2 linked regions of the Homo sapiens genome follow. The protein of the gene in region 1 interacts with the protein of each later gene in a pairwise test. Each region holds a gene or a part of one and is shown on either strand. Other genes may lie near its edges.

Evidence for each region.
Region 2: the proteins of ZNF646 (region 1) and PRKG1 interact in binary tests that used the Homo sapiens proteins (3 or more experiments, as listed by UniProt).

What each region holds. Positions count from the first base shown.
Region 1 is NC_000016.10:31,067,820-31,079,421, forward strand, and holds the start of ZNF646 (zinc finger protein 646), read left to right. Parts: upstream 1-6,602; 5' UTR 6,603-6,812; exon of another isoform or gene 6,813-6,942; intron 6,943-8,426; 5' UTR 8,427-8,505; coding exon 8,506-11,602. UniProt on the Homo sapiens protein: May be involved in transcriptional regulation.
Region 2 is NC_000010.11:51,066,874-51,078,922, forward strand, and holds the start of PRKG1 (cGMP-dependent protein kinase 1), read left to right. Parts: upstream 1-7,613; 5' UTR 7,614-7,717; coding exon 7,718-8,028; exon of another isoform or gene 8,029-8,239; coding exon of another isoform or gene 8,240-8,247; intron 8,248-12,049. UniProt on the Homo sapiens protein: Serine/threonine protein kinase that acts as a key mediator of the nitric oxide (NO)/cGMP signaling pathway. GMP binding activates PRKG1, which phosphorylates serines and threonines on many cellular proteins.

The sequences.
Region 1 (11,602 bases):
AGTTGCTGGGGTCTTGCTCAGTGGTCTGGGGCCTCTTACGCTTGTCTGCTGCCTCCGCCAGCCCCACAGTGACCAGAACCCTGAGCTCAGGTCATACCTGTGTCTTCTCTCATCCTTGCAGAACTGCCCTGAGACCCTGGCCGGCACCCTTTATGTCTCTGCTTCCCTCTCAGAGGGCTTGACCCAGTGGTTCTGAGCTCTGGCCCTTCTACTGCCTCTTGCCAGCTCTGGGTCTCAGCCTTCCTATCTGTGAGTTAGACACCAGGTAGCTGGAGGGGAAATCCCTCCTCCCATGGCACTTCCCAGGGGAAAAGGTAGGGGAGTGCCAGGTTGGTCTCAGCATGCGCCCAGCTACACAAAGAGGCCAGGTAGGCTAGGTCTCTGTCTAACATCCCACCATTAAAAAAAAAAAAAAAAAAAATATATATATATATATATATATATATAATTTTTGAGATGGAGTCTTACTCTGTTGCCCAGGCTGGAGTGCAGTGGCGCGATCTTGGTTCACTGCAACCTCCGCCTCCTGAGTAGCTGGGACTACAGGCACCTGCCACCACACCTGGCTAGTTTTTTGTATTTTTAGTAGAGACGGGGTTTCACTGTGTTAGCCAGGATGGTCTCAATCTCCTGACCTCGTGATCCGACCGCCTCGGCCTCCCAAAGTGCTGGGATTACAGGCGAGAGCCACCACGCCCAGACTTTTTTTTTTTTTTTTATTAAAGAGCTTGAGGTAGGCCTCAGGAATCTGTATTTTAAATACACTCTGGATCATTCCAGCCAATACTTTTGTTTGTTTGGTTTTGAAACAAGATCTCACTCTGTCGCTCAGGCTGGAGTGCAGTGGTGCAGTCATGGCTTACTGCAGCCTTGACTTCCCAGACTCAAGCAATCCTCCCACTTCAGCCTCCCAAGTAGCTGGGACTACAGGCATGCACCATCATGCCTGGCTAATTTTTATTTTATTTTTAGTAGAGATGAAGTCTTGCTATGTTGCCTGGGCTGGTCTAGAACTCCTGGGCTCAAGTGATCCTCCCACCGCAGCCTCCCAAAGTGCTGGGATTACAGGCGTGAGCCACCGTGCCTGCCCAACCAATACTTAAGAACCAAACACACATCCTTAGGTCTCCACGAGCTCTCAGGAGAGGAGCATTTTAAGTGTTCACTACACCTCTTTTTCAGATATTGAGATTAAGGTCCCCACAAAGGAAAAACTGTACACAAGGACACACAGCTGGTCAAGGAGCCAGACTCGAACCCAAGTCTCCATTCTCTCCCCCAGGTTGAATCATGAGACTTCCCACTGCTCCCAGGAAAAAGACCAATATCTTTTCCATGGCCAGCATAGCCCCAAACCATCTAAATCCTGCCTACCTGGGCAGATCACTTGAGGCCAGGAGTTTGAGACCAGCCTGGCCAACATGGTGAAACCCCATCTCTACTAAAAATACACACACACACACACACACACACACACACACACACACCTGCCTACCTCACCTCCCACTCCTCTCCCTGGCCCACTGGGCTCTACCCACAGAGGCCTCCTTTCTTCTCCTCAAAGAGCTAAATTCCTTCCCACCTCAGGGCAGTGGCACTAGCAGTTCCCTCTGTCTGAGCCACTCTTCTCCCACGATCTTTGTGTAGCTGTCTTTTTTGGTGTTATTTGGATCTCAGCTCCCAGTCACCTCCTCAAAAAGAGCTTTCTTGACCACCTTTCCTTTTCTTCCCCCCTTTTAATATTCCAAATTTTTTCCTTTTTTAACCAACCAAGGAGCACTGAATGACTACCTTTCTCAATGCTATCTTTACCCCTGATAATCATTCTCTATCTACTCTTTATTATTATTATTATTTTTTGACGGAATCTCATGATTATCTATCAAGCAGTTCTCCTGCCTCAGCCTCCTAAGTAGCTGGGACTACAGGTGCCCGCCACCACGCCCGGCTATTTTTTTTTTTTTTTTTTTTTTGAGACGGAGTCTCACTCCGTCACCCAGGCTGGAGTGCAGTGGCACAATCCTGGCTCACTGCAAGCTCCGCCTCCCGGGTTCATGCCATTCTCCTGCCTTAGCCTCCTGAGTAGCTGGGACTACAGGTGCCCGCCACCACGCCCGGCTAATTTTTTGTATTTTTAGTAGAGACAGGGTCTCACTGTGTTAGCCAGGATGGTCTCAATCTCCTGACCTCGTGATCCACCTGCCTCGGCCTCCCAGAGTGCTGGGATTACAGGCGTGAGCCACTGCACCCGGCCCAATCCCGGCTAATTTTTGTATTTTTAGTAGAGATGGGGTTTCACCATGTTGGCCAGGATGGTCTCGATCTATTGACCTCGTGATCCGCCCGCCTCGGCCTCCCAGAGTGCTGGGATTACAGGTGTGAGCCACCGCGCCCGGCCCTTTTTTTGAGACGGAGTCTTACTCTGTCCCCCAGGCTGGAGTGCAATGGCACAATATCTGCTCACTGCAACCTCCGCCTCCCGGGTTCAAGCGGTTCTCCTGCCTCAGCTTCCCGAGTAGCTGGAATTATAGGCGCCCGCCACTACATCTGGCTCATTTTTGTATTTTTAGTAGAGAGAGGATTTCACCATGTTGGCCAGGCTGGTCTTGAACTCCTGACCTCAAGTGATCCACCCACCTTGGCTTCCCAAAGTGCTTGGATTACAGGCATGAGCCACCGCACCCAGCCCTCTTTACTTTTTAAAAAATGTTTTTATTTTTATTTATATATTTATTTTTGAGACAGAGTTTCACTCTTGTTGCCAAGGCTGGAGTGCAATGGCACCATCTCTGCTCACTCCAACCTCCGCCTCCCCGGTTCACGAGATTTTCCTGCCTCAGCCTCCCGAGTAGCTGGAATTACAGGCATCCACCACCACGCCTGGTTAATTTTTTGTATTTTTAGTAGAGATGGAGTTTCACCATGTTGGCCAGGCTGGTCTCGAACTCCTGACCTCAGATGATCCACTGCCTCGGCTTCCCAGAGTGCTGGGATTACAGGCATGAGCCACCGTGCCTGGCTTATTTTTATTTATTTTATTATTTATTGTTATTATTATTTGAGACAGAGTCTCCCTCTGTTGCCCAGGCTGGAGTGCAATGGTGTGATGTCAGTTCACTGCGACCTCTGCCTCCTGGGTTCAAGCAATTCTTCTGCCTCAGCCTCCCAAGTATTTGGGATTACAGGTGCCTGCCACCACAGCCAGCTAATTTTTTGTATTTTTAGTAGAGATGGCCATGTTGGCTAGGCTGGTCTGGAACTCCTGACCTCAGGTGATCCACCCACCTTGGCCTCCCAAAGTGCTGGGATTACAGGCTTGAGCCACCATGCCCGGCCTATTTATTTCATTTTTATTTATTTATTTTCTTTGAGAGAAAGTCTTTGTTGCCCAGGCTGGAGTGCAGTGGCTGCATCTCAGCTCACTGCAGCCTCCACCTCCCGGATTCAAGTGATTCTCCAGCCTCAGCCTCCCGAGTAGCTGGGACTACAGGCGAAAGCCATCACACCTGGCAAACTTTTGTATTTTTAGTAGAGACAGGGTTTCACCACATTGGCCACGCTGGTCTCGAACTCCTGACCTCAAGTGATCCGACCGCCTCAGCCTCCCAAAGTGCTGGGATTACAGGCGTGAGCCACCGTGCCTGGCCTTTATTTTTATTTAGAGATTGGGTCTCACTCTGTCACCCTGGAGTGCAGTGGCTCAATCATAGCTCACTTCAGCCTCAAACTCCTGCACTCAAGCAATCCTCCTGAGTAGCTAGGACTATAGGCACCCACCACCACACCTCGCTAATTTATTAAAAATTCTTTGTATATAGAGATGGAGGTCTCACTACGCTGCCGACAGTGGTCTCAAGAACTCCTGGCTTCAGATGCTCCTCCACTATGGCTTCCTAAAGTGCTGTGATTACAGGCATGAGCCACAGTGACCAGCACCCCTCCTCTCTAATTTCCTTTATGGTGTCATCTGGACAATACTCCTTGCAAGCTTACCATGGGCAAGGTATCATTCTAAGCATTTTGTGCATAATACTCAACTACTCAAGCCAACTGCACAGCTGCCTAGCAGTTCATTATGAGTGAATGTTTGTGTTCCCTGTCCATTCATATATTGAAATTCTAACTCTCATTGTGACTGTATTTGGAGACAAGGCCTTTATGGAAGTAATTAAGGCTGAATGACGTCATAAGGGTATGGCCCTGGTCCAGTAGGATTAGCGTTCTTATGAGAAGTGACACCACAAAGAAACAAGCTTACTAGTCACGGTCCCAGCCAGTGTTCAAATCCCAAACACCTGCTCTCTGAGCCCTGACTATTGCTTTGCTAGCATTACACATCTTATGGTTTGGCTGTTAATTCTTCATCACCAGCACCAGAGTCCAGGCTGGCAAAGGGCTAGGAAACCGATCATCTGCCTCCTCTACACCCAGAACCCTGTGTGGTGACCCAAAACAAATGGAAAGAACCAACCTCAGATGAAATTTGAACCCAGGTCTGTAGCCTCTGCCTCCTCCACAGTAGGAGTTTGTGAGAATGTCCACCAATAACTGTTTATTAACTAAATTCCTCCACCTTTCCAACTCCACAAGGCTCAACTATTGCCCCAATATCCCACAGTGGGCTCCCTGTCGTGGCGATGAAGCCTTGCTTTGCCTCACTACTGGCTTAGGAAGGGGATGAAGTTCTGCTGTCTCACTAGGCAAGCAAAGATTCAATTTCCAAAAATCCTAGGCTAGGACCCTGGGGCAGGGATGAGGAGAAAAAGGAGGCACCTCAATCTTCCCATCTCTAAACAAGCAGTCACCACACAGGCCTCACGGCCAGGAGTGACGTAGTGAGCGGATGAACCCTGCAGAAGTGAGCGCTAATCATATCCTAGGCCTCCTACCGGGCCAGTTCACAACCTGATCCCAACCTACTTTTCCAGCCTCAGCTCCAGCGACAGAGTCCTCCTCCCGGCAGCGACCGAACCTCCAGCCACAATTCTCAATCCTCCACCTCTAGATGCAGTTTCCTGGGCTCGGGGAGCCCTTGCCTGCCTTCTCCAACGGGAAAGCCCCTTTACATCCTTCAAGAACCCCCTTCCCTAGTGCCCTCAGGAATACTTTATGGCAGTAGAGAGGTAAGGGCCCCACGCCGCTCTGGACCTCAGTTTCCTCATCAGTAAAATGGGGTCCCTTAAGTTTGTGGGAGTTTGAAGGGCGGTGGGGCCTACGAAGCGCGCCGAGGAGCCGAGAGTTGCAGAAACCCGGAGCTCCTCGCTCCTCGCAACCGTCTGTACGCGGCGCCCCCGCCAGCCAGGCAGCCCCTGGAGGGCAGGACCCCGGTTATAAGCCTCAGAAAACGTGGCTTCGGAGGACGTGGCAAGGAGGACTGAACGAAGGATGAGGAGATGAACAAATGAATGGACGGAAGGCCGAATGAGGGACAAAGGCTTGCAAGATGGCGTTCTCTAGGACCGCGGGAGTGGTGGCCGGGCCTCAGCAGGGGAGGGGGCCGCCGGCGCCTGGGATCTTGCAGCGCGGGCCACGCGACCGGGACAAAAACCCAAAACATGGCGGGCTCTAGGACCCCCGGGACCACACCGCGCCGGGCCAGCAGCCGCGCGGGCCGAGCCTGGGTGTCCGCAGCCCAGAACCGCGGAGACAGCCGGCGGGTTCTAGGACCTGCTGGGCCCGCAATGCGCCCGGGGCCGCTCACAGCCCGCCCCGCCCGCGCTGCTCGCGCTGGGCCAACCCGGCCCGCCCTCGGCGCCCGCAGGGAAACTGAGGCCAGCTCGGATCGTGGCCGCGTGGGAGCTGCCCGGGGCCCTCGCGGCTTCCCGCCGACGTTTCCTACCTGATGAGACTTGTGCTGACTCCGTGGCGTCGGCGTCGGCTCCTCGCACCGACGGAGCCCGGACCCTGCCAAACAGGGGCCGGCGCTAGGACCCAGCGGGGGGCGGGGAGGTGGGACCGGTGGCGCGGCGAGCGGAAGTGAGGGATCTTCCTCAGCTAGGAAGGAAGGGAAAGTTCCCGGGGAACCTCCAGCCTATGGCGGCAGAGAAGCATCTTGCAAGAGGTCTCTGTGTGTGCTGAGGCAAGGGGACGCCAGGCAGGCTGACGGTATACGCCCGCCTTGTGTTAGTCTGGGGCCAGGTCACCGGCAATGTCTTCAAGAACCAGAAGGTGGGAGGACAAAAAGGCCATGCTCAAGCTCTGCAAAACCTAAGTCCAATTATATTCCACAACATTTCCTTTAATAGCAAGGAGTGGGTTTCACGAAGTTTTCTCCATCTGCCTTGGGAAAAGTCCTCCAGAGAGCCCCACGAAAAGTGTCACCAAAGTACTGTGGCCAGGGCTGTAGAATCTTTTTCTCCCTTTCTGCGCCTATTCAATATGCACCGGAACGATTCTAGCTGCTCTTGCCGGAAGTGTGGCTAGCTTAGCGTGCAAAGACGCCGCGTTGTGACCTACGTGGGCGGAGTCAGCCGTGCAGACCTAGAACTTAGCGCCGGAAGTGTGTCTGCGTAAAACTGCGGCTCGGAGGCGGGACAGGCAGTGCTCCCGAAGCGGAAGTTTCGCGGGGAAGCTTTTGCACCTAAGGACACTTCCTGTTTCCTAGTAACAATAGGAAGTGTCCGTAGAGCTGGGAGTAGACTCCTGGCTCATGCCAGCTGCGCCCTCTTTTCTCTACCTCCTTCCTCTTCCCCCCTTCTCCTTTCCCTCTTTCCCTTCCCTCCCACCTCCCGGGAACCCTGGCTGAGTGTGCGTGTGTGGGAGCGCGAGAGCCCCCCGACAGCCACCCCTTGGGGCGCGCGGCTGCAGTTAGGGTAAGGGTCCCAGTGCGCAGGCGCGCTCTTGTTCGCGGTCCCCAACTGACGCGCCCGCGGCGGGAAGGAGAGGGGGCCGCCGGTGCGAGGTAGGCGTCCTGAGAGGAAATTGGCAGACGAGATGAGTGAGGTCAGAGGACTTCATTGGTGGTTGACTAGGGGAGGGGACTTTTGATCAAAGGGGCTTTGTGAGGTGAGAATTCCGGGGGCAGGTTCAGTGAAGGGGTTTACGGTCGGAGACAGTTGTACTGGGGTCCCATGGGAAGAAGAGTCAGAGTTGGAGAAGGACAAGACGATGTAGGGGGCATGAGAGAGCAAGGGCTTTGGGATGAAGACCGCCTCAGTCAGGGGGTTTGCTGTTACGTGAACTAGAATAACAGGCATTGCCGTGTGTTCTGAGGATTGAGTAACACAATGAATATAGTTAGCACAGTGCCTGGCACATGGTAATATAATACTCTTCATGAGTTGCTGTCATCATCAGTATTAAGAGAGGAGGCAGAAGAAAAAAATGAGAAAGACTGGTGAGGGTAAGATCAGGAGGCATGGGAGAGAAAAGGTAGGCAATGAAGTGACATTACAACCTGGTATTGATGTTATTCCCAAGATGGAAGATAGTTTGAGTTCAAGGGAAGTAGATAAAAGAAGTCGCTAAGAGAGTCTTTTGGGGTTTTTTGTTTTTTTGAGATGGAGTCTCGCTCTGTCACCCAGGCTGGAGTGCTGTGGTGGGATCTCAGCTCACTGCAACCTCCACCTCCCAGGTTCAAGCAGTTCTTCAGCCTCAGCCTCCTGAGTAGCTAGAATTACAGGTGCCCACCACCACGCCCGGCTAATTTTTGTATTTTTAGTAGAGACAGGGTTTCACCATGTTGTCCAGGCTGGTCTTGAACTCCTGAACTCAGGTGATCCACCAGCCTCGGCCTCCCAAAGTGCTGGGATTACAGGCGTGAGCCACCACACCTGGCCCAGTTAAGAGAGTCTTAACTCTCTTAACTCTCTTGTCACAAGGAAAAGAGACCTTGTGACACTGAAATGACTCGGGGTGGTGGGGGAACAAGCCAGCCCTTTCCCTGAAGGAGGCCTCTAACCTCTCCTCTCAGGTCCTCAGCTATTAACTGGAGGAAACAGCTGCTTTTTCAGTGCTTCTCAGCTACTCTGTTTAGCTGAGAGATGAAGTAGGAAGATTTGGACTTCTCTTATTGAAAGGCCTAGAGAAGGTTTTGGTGTCCTTTTAAGATGTCACAGAAAATTTTTGTTTCAGGATTGTAGGGAGCAGATTCCTACTGTTCTTAAAGGACAGTAATGCCTTTTGAGTCTGGTCTGAAGAACATAACAGGTCTGTGATCAGAAGTAGGTTGCATCTCTCTCAACTTTAATTTCCTTAGCTATACCTGTAGGGATGACTTAAGCCTAGGGGAGCTCCTATATTTGGGAAGCTTGTGCACAGGGAAGCCTTAAATGATGGTGCCTGCAGATTGGATCTAGTAGAAATTAGGTCCTTGGGCATGGATGCTTGGGGAACCTCTCAGTGACCTCAGGTGAACTTGTTGCTCGTAGAGCCAAGAGGCGAAGTTAATTCAGGCCTTCCTTTTGACCACTGCCCCCTCTTCCTAGGCCTTGGCCCCTCCACCAGAGGAAGGTGCTGCCACGTGTCTGCTCCTTCTGAACCTCCAGGTTTCTGCTACGTTGCCCCATGGAGGACACACCCCCCTCACTCAGCTGCTCCGACTGTCAGCGCCACTTTCCCAGCCTCCCAGAGCTCTCTCGGCACCGAGAACTGCTCCATCCATCTCCCAACCAGGACAGTGAGGAGGCTGACAGCATCCCTCGGCCCTACCGTTGTCAGCAGTGTGGGCGGGGCTACCGTCACCCCGGGAGCCTGGTTAACCATCGTCGGACCCACGAGACTGGCCTTTTCCCCTGTACCACCTGTGGCAAGGACTTCTCCAATCCCATGGCTCTCAAGAGCCATATGAGGACACATGCTCCTGAGGGCCGCCGCAGGCACAGGCCCCCACGCCCCAAGGAAGCCACTCCACACCTCCAGGGTGAGACGGTGTCCACTGACTCCTGGGGCCAAAGGCTTGGCTCTAGTGAAGGCTGGGAAAACCAGACAAAACATACAGAAGAGACACCTGACTGTGAATCTGTACCTGACCCCAGGGCAGCTTCGGGTACGTGGGAAGATCTGCCCACCAGACAAAGAGAAGGCTTGGCAAGCCACCCAGGTCCTGAGGATGGTGCAGACGGCTGGGGACCCTCCACTAACTCTGCCAGAGCCCCTCCTCTCCCCATCCCAGCCAGCAGCCTTCTTAGCAACTTGGAACAGTATCTGGCTGAATCAGTAGTGAACTTCACAGGGGGCCAGGAGCCCACCCAGTCCCCTCCTGCTGAGGAGGAGCGGCGGTACAAATGTAGTCAGTGTGGCAAGACCTACAAGCACGCCGGGAGCCTCACCAACCACCGCCAGAGCCACACGCTGGGCATCTACCCCTGTGCCATCTGTTTCAAGGAGTTCTCTAACCTCATGGCTCTGAAGAACCACTCTCGACTGCATGCCCAGTATCGGCCTTACCACTGTCCCCACTGCCCCCGTGTCTTCCGGCTCCCCCGGGAGCTGCTGGAACACCAGCAGTCCCATGAGGGTGAAAGGCAGGAGCCACGCTGGGAGGAGAAAGGGATGCCCACCACCAATGGGCACACAGATGAGAGCAGCCAGGACCAGCTCCCCAGTGCACAGATGCTGAATGGCTCTGCGGAGCTCAGCACCTCTGGGGAGCTGGAGGACAGTGGCCTGGAGGAATACCGGCCTTTCCGCTGTGGGGACTGTGGCCGTACTTACCGCCATGCTGGGAGCCTCATCAACCATCGAAAGAGCCACCAGACAGGTGTCTACCCCTGCTCACTCTGTTCTAAGCAGCTGTTCAATGCGGCTGCCCTCAAAAACCATGTGCGGGCTCATCACAGGCCCAGGCAAGGAGTTGGGGAAAATGGGCAGCCATCAGTCCCACCAGCTCCCCTGCTGCTGGCTGAGACCACCCACAAAGAGGAAGAGGACCCCACCACCACCCTGGACCATCGGCCCTATAAGTGCAGTGAGTGTGGTCGTGCTTACCGCCACCGGGGGAGCCTGGTGAACCATCGCCACAGCCATCGGACTGGAGAGTACCAGTGCTCACTCTGTCCCCGCAAGTACCCCAATCTCATGGCCCTGCGCAACCACGTGCGGGTACATTGCAAGGCTGCTCGCCGAAGTGCAGACATCGGGGCTGAGGGTGCCCCCAGCCACCTCAAGGTAGAACTCCCGCCTGACCCAGTGGAGGCAGAGGCAGCCCCGCACACAGATCAGGACCATGTGTGCAAACATGAAGAAGAGGCCACGGACATCACCCCAGCAGCAGACAAGACAGCAGCACATATCTGTAGCATCTGTGGGCTGCTCTTTGAAGACGCTGAGAGCCTTGAACGTCATGGCCTGACTCATGGGGCAGGGGAAAAGGAAAATAGCAGAACAGAGACCACAATGTCACCTCCTAGGGCCTTTGCCTGCCGAGACTGTGGAAAGAGCTATCGCCACTCAGGCAGCCTTATCAACCACAGGCAGACCCACCAGACAGGAGACTTCAGTTGTGGGGCCTGTGCCAAGCACTTCCACACCATGGCTGCCATGAAGAACCACTTGCGCCGGCACAGTCGGCGGCGGAGCAGGCGGCATCGGAAGCGGGCTGGCGGTGCCAGCGGTGGGAGAGAAGCCAAACTCCTGGCAGCGGAGAGCTGGACCCGGGAGCTAGAAGACAATGAAGGCCTGGAGTCTCCCCAAGACCCTTCAGGGGAAAGTCCTCATGGGGCTGAAGGCAACCTGGAAAGTGATGGGGACTGTTTGCAGGCTGAATCTGAAGGGGACAAATGTGGGCTTGAGAGGGATGAGACCCATTTCCAGGGTGATAAAGAGAGCGGAGGCACTGGGGAAGGACTGGAAAGGAAGGATGCCAGTTTACTTGACAACTTGGACATCCCAGGTGAGGAAGGTGGTGGCACTCACTTCTGCGATAGCCTCACTGGGGTGGATGAAGACCAGAAGCCAGCCACTGGCCAACCCAACTCCTCTTCCCACTCTGCCAATGCTGTCACTGGCTGGCAGGCTGGGGCCGCTCACACATGCTCTGACTGTGGGCATTCTTTCCCCCATGCCACTGGCCTGCTGAGCCACAGGCCCTGCCACCCACCAGGCATCTATCAGTGCTCCCTCTGCCCGAAGGAGTTTGACTCTCTGCCTGCCCTCCGCAGCCACTTCCAGAACCATAGGCCTGGGGAGGCGACCTCAGCACAGCCTTTCCTCTGCTGCCTCTGTGGCATGATCTTCCCTGGGCGGGCTGGCTACAGGCTTCACCGGCGCCAGGCCCACAGCTCCTCTGGCATGACTGAGGGCTCAGAGGAGGAGGGGGAAGAGGAAGGAGTGGCAGAGGCAGCCCCTGCACGCAGTCCACCACTGCAGCTCTCGGAAGCAGAGCTGCTGAATCAGCTGCAGCGGGAGGTGGAAGCGCTGGACAGTGCAGGGTATGGGCACATCTGTGGCTGCTGTGGTCAGACCTACGATGACCTGGGGAGCCTGGAGCGTCACCACCAAAGTCAGAGTTCTGGGACTACTGCAGACAAGGCTCCCAGCCCCTTGGGAGTGGCAGGTGATGCCATGGAGATGGTCGTGGACAGTGTCTTGGAGGACATAGTGAATTCTGTCTCTGGAGAGGGTGGAGATGCCAAGTCTCAAGAGGGAGCAGGCACCCCCTTGG
Region 2 (12,049 bases), on another chromosome or scaffold:
TAGTTCACATTCTGAGGGAAGCCCTGCATTAGAGTCGCCTGGTTGCTAGCAGAGCTTTCTTTGACACTCCTCTTAGAACAACATATTTGCCTGCTTAAGATCCATGATAACTATGTTTTCTTCCTGTCACTTTGAATATTTTCTAGAAAATATGTGTCTTTATACAACTACTTTTTTTTCTTGAAAGAATCACCACTTAAAAGATTCCACCTCTCAATCTTGGTGCACTGGGGATTAAGTTTCCAGCATATGAACTTTGGGGGAGACATTCACATCATAGCTAACACATTTGCTTTTTTTTTCTGTGGGAGGTGGGATAGGATGGGATGTTAAGCCATGGCATATGTTGCTGTCGCTCCTTTAATTATCTGTGTTTGTGTGTTTGTATGTATGTGTGTATATATATATATATATATATATGTTATTTGTGTGTGCCCTTGAGAGTGGCATAAAGTAAACTAAAAAATAGACCAAACATGGAAACACTGTTATCTTAGGTAAGTTTTAGTTCTGTGACTGCTGAGAGAATATTACTTGCTGTTTTCTGATGGAGGGTCTAACCAGTGGAAACTGGAAAATGAAAGTAAGCAATTTTCACTAAGTTCTCTATGTTCCTAACAGCAGCAATTGCTTTTAATATTCCACAAATAAACATTGTGAAGATTTCCCTGTTATTTTTTCCACTTAAAAGTTGTAGTCAACATAGATGATTTTCTAAAGAAACTAGATGATTAGAATTTTGGCTGTATTATAATCTGGGGAAAAATTAGATGAATTTTCCATAATGACTCTCTACATTAACTCTTTGAGTAAAAAATTTGTATGTAATACAGTGACTCTAGACAGACACTATTTTGTGCTAATATCAAAAAAGTGTGAAATTTCCTATTGTACATTTATTTATATGGTGCATTGAAACTATATGATACTTTAGATATTGCTGCTTTGGGTAACTTCTTCATTATATAGGTGTTTGAACATTTGTCTTTTAAGTTTAAATCTGGAACACTAATATTTATTCTTTACCTACCAGATTAAATGCCTGTGCTTTCAATAATGAATTTTTAAAAATCCAGTCTAGACCATGAAGGAATTACTGAATCTTCTCTAAAAACCTACATTAGGCAAGGCCAATGATAATGTTGTAGTTAGTTACAAATACATAGTGAATGTATGCATCTCCTGGGCCCCAGCCTGGGGCTTCTACCCTTGTTTCAAGAATAATACGTGGCAATATCTTGGCCCTGGAATGATATCCATTTGCTTTACTAGCCTACTATTTCATTTGCCTGTCGTTAGAAAAGTGGATTTCTGGATTTCCATCTCATGATGATTATAGAAAAGTCACAATTTGAAGATTCCTTAATTTGAAGCTAGGTGATATTTACATGCCCATTAAGTTAATGAGAGTGGAGATCTCCATGTATTTCCCTACTATGTCTTTTTGCCTGCAAAGCCCCCTCTCCCTTGAATCACTGACATTCTCACAATGTAAATAAATTTCTTGACATCTTTCTCTTGCCCAATGCAGTCATTTGACCTACTAATAAAAATTCAATTCACCCAAATTTCTATTTCATTGTCCTTCTTACATCTTTAGTATTTTCTTACCTTATTATTTTTAAAGAGTTTGCTAGCAAAACTTCAGTTTTCTTTACTTTAAATTTTGGTTACAAAACCTGTAAGAAGAAAATGGCCAAGTTATATCAACTGCTAAATACTAGTTAAAATACAAACAACAGCAAAAAAGACAAATCATGGACTAGAGAGCTATTCTATAAGCCCCACAATATCAAATCTGTTTTCAGAATCAAAATTACTTTTAAAAATACTTTAGAATATTTTGTGGAAAATATTGATGATTTACCTTAGTAAAAGATGCACATTTAATATACCAGAAGAATCACTGAAATGGAACTGAGCAACTCTAACTTATTTATCATACAGGTATGTTGCATGCTCATGTACATATTCATTACGCTTCAAATGCAGTAAAATGGTGTCTTGTGAATAAAGCATTTTAAATTCTATTTTATGCATTTAAAAATTTTACACTTATTTCAAAATACAAAAAACCTAATATTTTTCTTGATTTTTTTTCTTTTGGCTATTGTAAATGAGCAGCTGACTAAAGAGTACAAATAAATATTCATTTTGTTAGATAGCTCATGAGTTTTCATGAGAACTAGTTTAGCCTGAGACCCAATAATAACTTCCCGTCATCTTAAGAAGGGGACTATAAAAATTCATTTCACCTAATATTAAGCATGACACTAATTCAGTATTAAATGCTAAGTACATTAGCAATTATGGTACAGTACGCTGTTACTTTCCAAGTCTCTGCAGTAAGTTTTTCATCATTAATGGTTTATTATTTTTTTCTTTTCTACGCAGAACTTACCATTTGAAATAGTATAACTTGAAAACAGCCAAACTATTTCAATTTTTACTTATATCCATGTAAATATATATTCCTTATGGCCAAATCTATCCACTAAACACAATTATAAAACTAGTTCTATAGGAATTAATAAAATAGCAGGCACTTGAATCCCTGTACTTAATTCACAGGGAATCAATGTAAGTTCCAGTTTCTGTAAAAACAATAAAGCAAAAAGGGATCCTTGAATTATTGTCTAATTTATCAAAGTATAATTAAAATTCTATTGTCTGACTCATCCCCCTTTATAGTCCAAAGACAGTTCCGGTTGTGCATTATTATTCATTGCAATAGGATGATTGCTTTCCTAAAACATATTAACACAAAGTAATGTATAAGTGGGTTTGTAATGTGCCTAAAATAATAGGTATTATCATTACAGATCTTCCTTGGTTTTACTTTTCTATCAGTAATGTGGAAAGCAAAATTTGAAAATATTTATAAACTAGAGAAGCTCAGATATTTTGAATTGAATAGGGTGACCAACTCTCCTGGTTTGCCCGAGACTGGAAGATTCTTAGAACTTTTAGTTTTAAAGACAGGACAATTTCAAGCAATTTTAGGATTAGTACAATCTCTGGCAAATGGGTTCAAGTTACTTACCCTGAGCCAGAATGTAATCTTGTTGAAATAAAGACAGGACTGTTTTGTGAAAAGGAACTTTTTGAAAACCTTGTTGCTGCTCTTTCAGGATTTTCCAAATTTGTCCTCTTCACCTCCCTGACCCCTAAGTCAAGCAAGTTGATGTTAAAGACACTCTTCTCTCTCTGGATACAGAATAGGACAGTAGCAACACTTATAAGTTCTGCAGAAAGTAATGAGGGGTAGGGGCCTCAGCTCTACATCACCTAGTCTGGATATGAAGCCAGTCTTTGCCATTGATTAGGTGAATGATTCTGTGACTCCATTTTCTCTAATATTAATAGAATATTAATAATATTGAACTTATAGGGTTGTATGAACAATACCTATCATGCATTAAGAAGTCAAGGAAGTTAGTTAATTTTTTGTGATCTTGATTATGATTAGCAACTTAGAACAGACCGTCATGTCTGCCAGTAATAGCTTTAAAATCTAGATTCCTAGGAGGACTTGTTACTTTTAGCAATCTTCTGCCAGAGGAAGCTTCTGTCTCCTGAAAGGCTCAGCTATATATTTGTTTGTTTATTTTTTCCCATTCAAGATATACACATGAAATGACAGAAGAAAATTTCAAAACTTAAGATTCTTCCAGGAAATACAGTGTCAGTGGAATGGATAAGTGGATAAAATTAGCACAGTTCTTTTGGGCTAATTATGTTTTTAGTGAAGGATGACAAATTCTACAGATTTATTTTTGAATAGCCAGTATTATAATAAAGCTACTTTATTGGAATAGCTCATTAAATGATTCTGAGAATCCATTAAGGAAGGCATGTCAGTTTTTATTCTCAATTATGAGGATTGGGTGCAAGACTAAAGAGCATGTTGGAGTTCAACAGGCCACAGTTTGGTCTGGCTACCAGTAGAACTTTGCTTCTATTAAAGTTATGAAAAAGGAAGACTGCTGAAAAACAGGTTGTGAGTTGTTTCTGGAATTCTAGAGTATGAAGTCAGTTCCTTCAAAATTGCATTGTTCTAACTGTTAGCATCTAATGTCAAAGCTTCATCTCAGATAGGCAGTGGGGCAGGGCTCAGATCAAGCCATTCTCCTCTACTCTATCCCTGAAGGAATCTGAGGTAGACACTTCCTAATTAGCAGAAAGTAGACTTGTGCCTGATCTTTGATCTTGTAATTTAGCCAATTAAGTTTACTACATGACACTTAGTAAAGATAATTTGTCTGTTAAGACGTAATTGCAGGACTTTGATTTTTCACATAGGGTTTATTTCCAGCATTTACTAAGTACAACGCAGAAGATGTTTAAGAAAATATTGGAAACACTCAAAAGGTTGAGATGGAAACCTGGTCGCTCAAGATCTAAACAGCTGGTCAAAAGCATCATTGAAAAACATACTTAAAATATTTATTTTTACTTTAAAAATGAAAGAGAAAAGGCTAGAATCCTGGATTTTGCATATGAAATTATAAAGCATTTAAGGGGAAGTCAATTTAAAAAAATAACACAGCCTGAGATAACTAAATATATTCTATTCCTTGAACACCTTTTAAAGTCAATTGTAAAAGTCATGTCTTTTCAGCTTTTTACTCTATTTGTGTTTGTTATAACAGATTCCTGACTCTCAATATCAGATTCATCCTGGAACAGATTTTATATCATGAGATGTAAATTTAAAATGAAAATGTAATGTGTATACATCCTATAGTTGCATTTAGATATGCCAGCTTAAATACTGATAAGTATTTACATAATTTAGTGTAAAAAAACTCACTTTTTTCCAAAATGCCTAAATATTTTTGGTTTTTTTATTTTTGGGGAAAGTGTTTTAGTTTTTATTTTCCTTTGTACATGTAGACAGACTTTCTACAAATGAGGAAGAACCTTCTCTCTTTGTGCTGCTCAAAAACATTAAGTAACCCCATTTAAACCCTAAATAAACTCTAAAACATCAATGAAAAACGTATTTAAAATATTTGTTTTCACTTTAAAAATGAACGAGATGGCTGGGCACAGTGGCTAATGCCTATAATCCCAGCATTTTTGGAGGCCAAGGCGGGCAGATCACGAGATCAAGAGATCGAGAACATCCTGGCCAACATGGTGAACCCCGTCTCTACTAAAAATACAAAAACTAGCCGGCGTGGTGGCGGGTGCCTGTAGTCCCAGCTACTCCGGAGGCTGAGGCAGGAGAATCACTTGAATCCAGGAGGCGGAGGTTGCAGGGAGCTGAGATTGCGCCACTGCACTTCAGCCTGGGTGACCAGAGCAAAACTCCGTCTCAAAAACAAACACACAAACAAACAAAAAAAAAACAAAGAGAAAATCCTGGAATTCTGAACCCAGCTTAGCAGTTGTCTAATTATGTCCTCTATACATTGTATCTGGTATATTTTTAGACATAAACTCATGGCTTCATGAACCCCAATAATAGATCTATAGGAAAAAGTCATTTTGTATTCAACATTTTCCCATGGAAATAAAGAATTCCCACAGGTTAAATAAGAATTTGGCCTTTTGCCCAGAAGAAGGAAATTTTCATGGAAGCTTTTTTAGAATACAGTGAGTTATACAAAGTCACAGTACTTCTGCTTGGTTTACTTTTAATTAAAACAACAGTAATTCAGAGCTATTATTATTTTCAATATTTGTAAGTTGCTCATTTCTTCATTGCAAAAGAAAATGTTTTGAGAATGATCCATTTTATATATCACATTTAGAAATAAATGCACTTCTGAAAGTCTGTGTTGGAAAGCAGAAAAATGAAGTGTCTTGTGTAATCTGCATTAAGAGAATTACTAGATCATAATCTACATAAAAGAATATTTAGGACTATATATTTTGTCATTTAGTCCTCTAATTAAAAACAAGGACACTTTAAATGAACAAGCTTGTTAAGATACCTTGACCTCCCTCCCTCCTTTCCTCCCTTCCTCTGTCTCTAGCTTAAATACAAAAAGTTGTGTATTCAAAAGCAACAGTGTGCAAGTTATTTTGATACTATTCTTTGCTAAGTTTAGAATTGCATTGCAATTCAATTTTATTTTCTGTCCACTTTGTTTTAGTGTTAAGGAATAACCAAATAGAGCATTGAGGATTATAATATTGAGTGCCCAAGAATAGTAATCAAAAATCTGCCAATAAAGATGCTATAAAATTGGATGAGTTCGTAATGTCTTAAGCAAATATTAGGGATTTAGGTACGTATTAGGCAGATATTTGGGGATTCTAAACATGTGTTCCCATGATGGGAGTGTAACACTTGGATAGAAAGGAAGTTACCTAATTGTGATCATTTTGGGGAATATTGAGTGGGCAGGGATGAGGGTGGGAGTGGGTAGAGGTGGGGGTGACTGCAGTATAGTGTACAATTCACTGCAGCCTGCGTGGTCTCCCTCGCTCCTTCACGATTTTCCCTCTTCTTCAAAGTTTGTGTCAGGATGTCTTCCTGGCCATTCAAGTGGAAAGATACATTCCTAACAGCTTGGTTGTGAGGAAAGTAATATTTTTAAAGGTATGATTCAGTTTCAAGATGAAATTTTTGGAGCTCGGGAATGATTTTTAACCCCCACCCTCTCCCCGCCAAATTCAGCAAATGGAAGAAGCAAGGCCCATCCGAGAACTATTCCCAGGCACCAGCTCAAGGCGGAGGGCTCATGGGGAAGCTGAGTGACCTGCTAGGGCCCAAATCCGTTTTTGGCCTTTGCCCTAAAACAGTTCCCCGATGAGAGTTTGGAAGGGGCAGAAAGGAAAGTAACTATCTGGAGCAGGCGAAGAGTAGCAACGCCTCGGGTGCTAAAATCGGAAACCCCACCCCCTACCCCACAACCCTTTCCCAAAGGTAGTAGGCTGAAAGGGGGAATTCCTCGCGGGCGCCGACTCGCTCGCATCTCCTGAGAGGCAAGTTTCTTCGCAAGCGTTAGCCACCTGTGTGAGGCGCTCTGGGTGGGAAAGGTGGCGTGGGAGAAGCGACAGCTCGGCCACACCGCTCGGGAGCTTTCCTTAGTGAGGCCGGCCGTCAAAATACCTCCAGAACTCAGAGCTTTGATGATGCAGAGTCCCCTATGCCTCGTACGTCGCTAGGATCGTAGCTCAACATTCTCCAGGCTGGTCTGCTCTGGAGTCAGCTGAGGCCTCCCGAGTTTGCCCGGGGTCCTCCCTGTCCCCTCCCTCCCACCTCCCCACCCCCGAAGTAGCGCTCCCGCCTCGCTCCACCCGCACACCCCCGGCGCGCCTCGGAGGCTTATCAGGCTCCCCGCACGCCCCGCAAGCTTCCTTGGGCGCCCGGCGCGAGGGACTCTGAGAGCCCAGCCGCTGCCTCGGAGCCCCCATTCACGTCCCCTCCTCCCGCTCCCCCGCCACCGCGCCTCCGACTCTTCTCCCCCGCGCCGCGGCGCCCACCGCGTCTCAGGTTTAATCCCGGGTTGGACCTGCTGGTTTGCTCTCCCCGCTCTGAGCCTCACAGCCAGCCCAGAGAAGTGGAATCTGCACTGAAACTCTGGGTGGCTGGAGCCGGCGGACTGGGCATGCTCAGAAGCCAGGGCTGGCTTTGGTCTCAAGTAGGAAGCTTTGGCACTCGGGAGGCAGCGGCGACTTTGGGGAAAGTTGATCGGAGAGGGGAGGAAGCCTCAAGACGCGGAGCAGCGGCAGGAAGGAGCCCCCGGCAGCCCGGAGGAGCATGGGCACCTTGCGGGATTTACAGTACGCGCTCCAGGAGAAGATCGAGGAGCTGAGGCAGCGGGATGCTCTCATCGACGAGCTGGAGCTGGAGTTGGATCAGAAGGACGAACTGATCCAGAAGCTGCAGAACGAGCTGGACAAGTACCGCTCGGTGATCCGACCAGCCACCCAGCAGGCGCAGAAGCAGAGCGCGAGCACCTTGCAGGGCGAGCCGCGCACCAAGCGGCAGGCGATCTCCGCCGAGCCCACCGCCTTCGACATCCAGGATCTCAGCCATGTGACCCTGCCCTTCTACCCCAAGAGCCCACAGTAAGCAGGGGTGACGCGCCGGGTCCATGTGGCGCCCTGGCGATGGGGAGCTGCGGGTCTCTGTATTGTCTGTCGGCCCCCGCCCCTCCCGCTTGCCATGTCTGTCCTCATCCTCAGAAATGTTTCATTTTAACGGGCACTTCTTGCGGGGCTGTGCACGTTTCTCAGAGCCAGACTCACTGCACATACGTTGCCTTCGTGTCTTTGTCAGATGTCAAGGTATTATTTTTAAATATACATATACATTCGTATAAGCCACCTAGTGTACGTAGAGTTTGAACACGTCCCAGGTGTGTGTCCGACCGTGTGTGTGAGTGTGAGAGAAGAAATAAAAAGCCCCCGTCTCCCAAAAGCCCTGGCAAACCAGCCCAGCTGGAAAATCCTAAATGCAGGCTCATCAGACTTGAAATGAAATGCGTCTGATCACCCATACTTTCTATGCTTTTGTGGCTCTCCCGGATTTCTCTACCTGCTGGCGCTTCACGCTGGTACCCTTCAAACCTGACGTTCTTGTCATCATCAAAGTGTGAAACATAAGCAAATAGGCATAGAAAAAGGAAGAATTTTTGATTTCCTGAATTGGATGACATTTACAATCCATAAATGGAAGACTAGTCTGTTGATTTTGAAGAAATATTTTTTCATAACATATGAGGGAGAAGATTGCTTATTTTACTTAAGAAACGTGCATAATGTTACTAATGGAGCATCTCCATCTCCCAAGAGGTGGTTGCTTGTTTCCAGGGTCAGATACAGATAAGCACACTTATCTTATTTAAAACGTGGACCCATTGTTTGCCTTACTCTTGGCTTCTAATGCAACCACTCTGGCATTGTTCTAGCCTTTTAGGGAACTGTGCAATTCTGATGTTAGTGGGCTTCATAACTTGGATGGGAAAAATTTAATGAAACTTGTTATACAACACTCAACTCAGAGTTCATATGGAGAGTAAAGCGACAGGAACATGAGGTTAACAGAATGTGGGAGAGCACCCAAAAGAACGGCATTTTAAATTAATAGATAATAACGTAATTGATAAAACCAAGGATATTGCTGCTTACTCTACTACTAACGAAATCACATTGGCTGGATGGCACGTGTTACGTAATAATGCAAGGTCCATCGAAACCCTTCACTTCATAAATACAACAAGTTAATATAAGGAGAAAGTAAATATTTGATTATCTCTATTTGTATTTATTGGATGTTTTTTGGGGAGAATCACAGCATGTACCAATTACTACTTTTGAAAACTTAGAGTTATACCTATACATGTTGATTCCCATGGAACATTTGCTGTTCATGCAGGCTTAGTTTAGGGAGGAGTTTGTATTCTGCGAGGGAGTTGGAAAGAGACAATAAGGATAAACATTTCTGAGATTCTGACCTTACCAAATTGCCCTAATAGTTCAGCAGACTTAGATCTGCCTTAGAAACCTGAGTGATCTGAATAAACTTCAACTTTCTCTGGTAAATTAATTTGCAATCCTGACATGCCTGACTGTTTTAGCTAACGAGGTACATGACCATCTCTCCTGGGCCAAGTTTTGCATAATGAAAAAATAACTCAAAGACAGCTCTCTGCATCTTTAAACATTTCATAGGATCTCATTTTTGTATCCGCAGGACTTTTGAGTGACACAGAGCAAACTCTGCTTTTACAAAAAGACCACTTTAATAGGTTTCATAGTGAAGCATGTTGAAGCCAGCTGATAACTCCAGTTACACATTCCATCAGAGATTTACAAGATTCTAGGCAGTAGGGAATGAGCTATACAATGTGATAAGTTTAAAAGCCTCTTTGTACATGACTTGTAGAATATCTAGATTGAAAAACAAACAAACGAAAAAGGTCCAGAGTGGAAAATAAAGCTGGTGTGGCAAATAATTTACAGCATCCCATTATAATAACATTTTATCTATCATTATAATAACATTTTATCTATCAAACAACACTGTGTGTCCTGATACTGATTTCTTACTAATAACTTGTATTTTAAAGGACTCAGCTCTTAAGGTATTGCCATGATGCTTTGGGTGACTCTGAAGTATTTTATTGAGGAAAATGATAGAATGCCTTCCAAGCTTAAATAATTTTGGAAAAACATCTGTTCTTTTTTCACACTTACATAAAGAAAACTAGAAAAAAATTGGCTTGAGTAGTAGAAAGTGTACCTTTCTTAGGGAAAAAAGAAGTACATTGTATGCAAAATGAATAAATCTTATGTTGTTTGAATGGTTGTACAAGGTAGCTCCACAAAGAGTTAAGAAAACCTGCCAAACCAAAGAAGACTTGTTTGCCTTTCAATGTATTTCACTATGAATAATTTGATTACACGGACTTACTGGCAACAAGTGTTTGTGTCTTTGTATTTCATCTTTACTACATCTTAAATGTAGCCATCTTTCTTAAACATACATATAGATTATTGTGAGTTTCCAGTTAAAATGAAACTATCTAAATAGACACATTAATTTCCAGTTTACGTTCATGCTAGTTTTTGATTCTCTTTTTTTTAGATGTAGGTAACTGCCCCGCTAATGTTCTGTTCATTTATCTGATATATGCAAATATATCTGTTTAGTTTTTACTTACTAAGGTTGCCTTCTGAGGATTATAATTTTTTTTAGTTCTGGTTTCTTGGTAAATTTGGTCATTTAAAAATAGTATAAAATGTAAATTAACTTAATAACTTGAATCATTTTAACATTTTTGGCTTGGAATTTTTCCTTTAATGTGGGAATTGGAGGGAAGGTTCTGTCAGATTCCAGCACTGAGCCAGGACACTCCTGCTATAACTATGAGGTAGGAGGAGGGTTTTTATTGGTCTCTTTCACAATCTGTATAGATACAATACTTATGTGAAGGAAAGAACTGATGTAGCAAATTGGAATCTGTATTCCACTGCTACCAAATAACTCCTTGAGAATGTAAAACTACTAAACTATATTTGGAAATAAACTGAGCAAATAAACCCTTAAAATGAAAAACAAAACCTAAGCATTCATTATGTGAGATCAGATAGCCTGTTGATTGCCTATATAGAATAGTTCTTATGGACTTAAGTAATTTTATTTCATGAAGTTTCATTCCTGAAATTGATTCTATATCATGTTAGAACATTCAGTCTCTGAAATTTTGATCTAAACCCCTTATCTTTTGAAAATATTCCCAAATCTTTTCCATTTTCATGTCACAGGGTTTCAGTCATTTCAGTTGGATTATATAGACTTGAGTTCCTAAAAGTGGTTAGTGTCTTTGTATTTTTGTAAGCTGTTGCTTTCACTCCATGTTCTATTTTGTTTCCTTTCTTTTTCCTTTGTTGTTGTTGTTGAGACAGAGTCTCACTCTGTCACCCAGGATGGAGTGCAGTGGCACGATCTTGGCTCACTGTAACCTCCGCCTCCAGGGTTCAAGCAACTCTCCCATCGCAGCCTCCTGAGTGGCTGGGATTACAGGCACGTGCCACCAATGCCTGGCTATTTTTTTTTTTTTTTTTTTTTTTTAGTAGAGATGGGGTTTCGCCATTTTGGCCAGGCTGATCTTGAACTCCTGAACTCAGGTTATCAGCCCACCTGGGCCTCCAAAAGTGCTGAGATTACAGATGTGAGCCACCACACCTGGCCCCTGTTTCACTTTTTCATTGCGAAGTACTTTGGAGGAGTTGAGGATAAAAATATTTATTTATATTTATTTATTTATTTATTTATTTATTTATTTATTTATTTATTGAGACGGAGTCTCGCTCTATCGCCCAGGCTGGAGTGCAGTGGTGCCATCTCAGCTCACTGCAAGCTCTGCCTCCCGGGTTCACACCATTCTCTTGCCTCAGCCTCCTGAGTAGCTGGGACTACAGGCGCCAGCCACCACGCCCGGCTAATTTTTTTGTATTTTCAGTAGAGACGGGGTTTCACAGTGTTACCAGGATGGTCTTGATCTCCTGACCTCATGATCCGCCTGCCTTGGCCTCCCAAAATGCTGGGATTACAGGTGTGAGCCACCGCACCCGGCCTATTTTT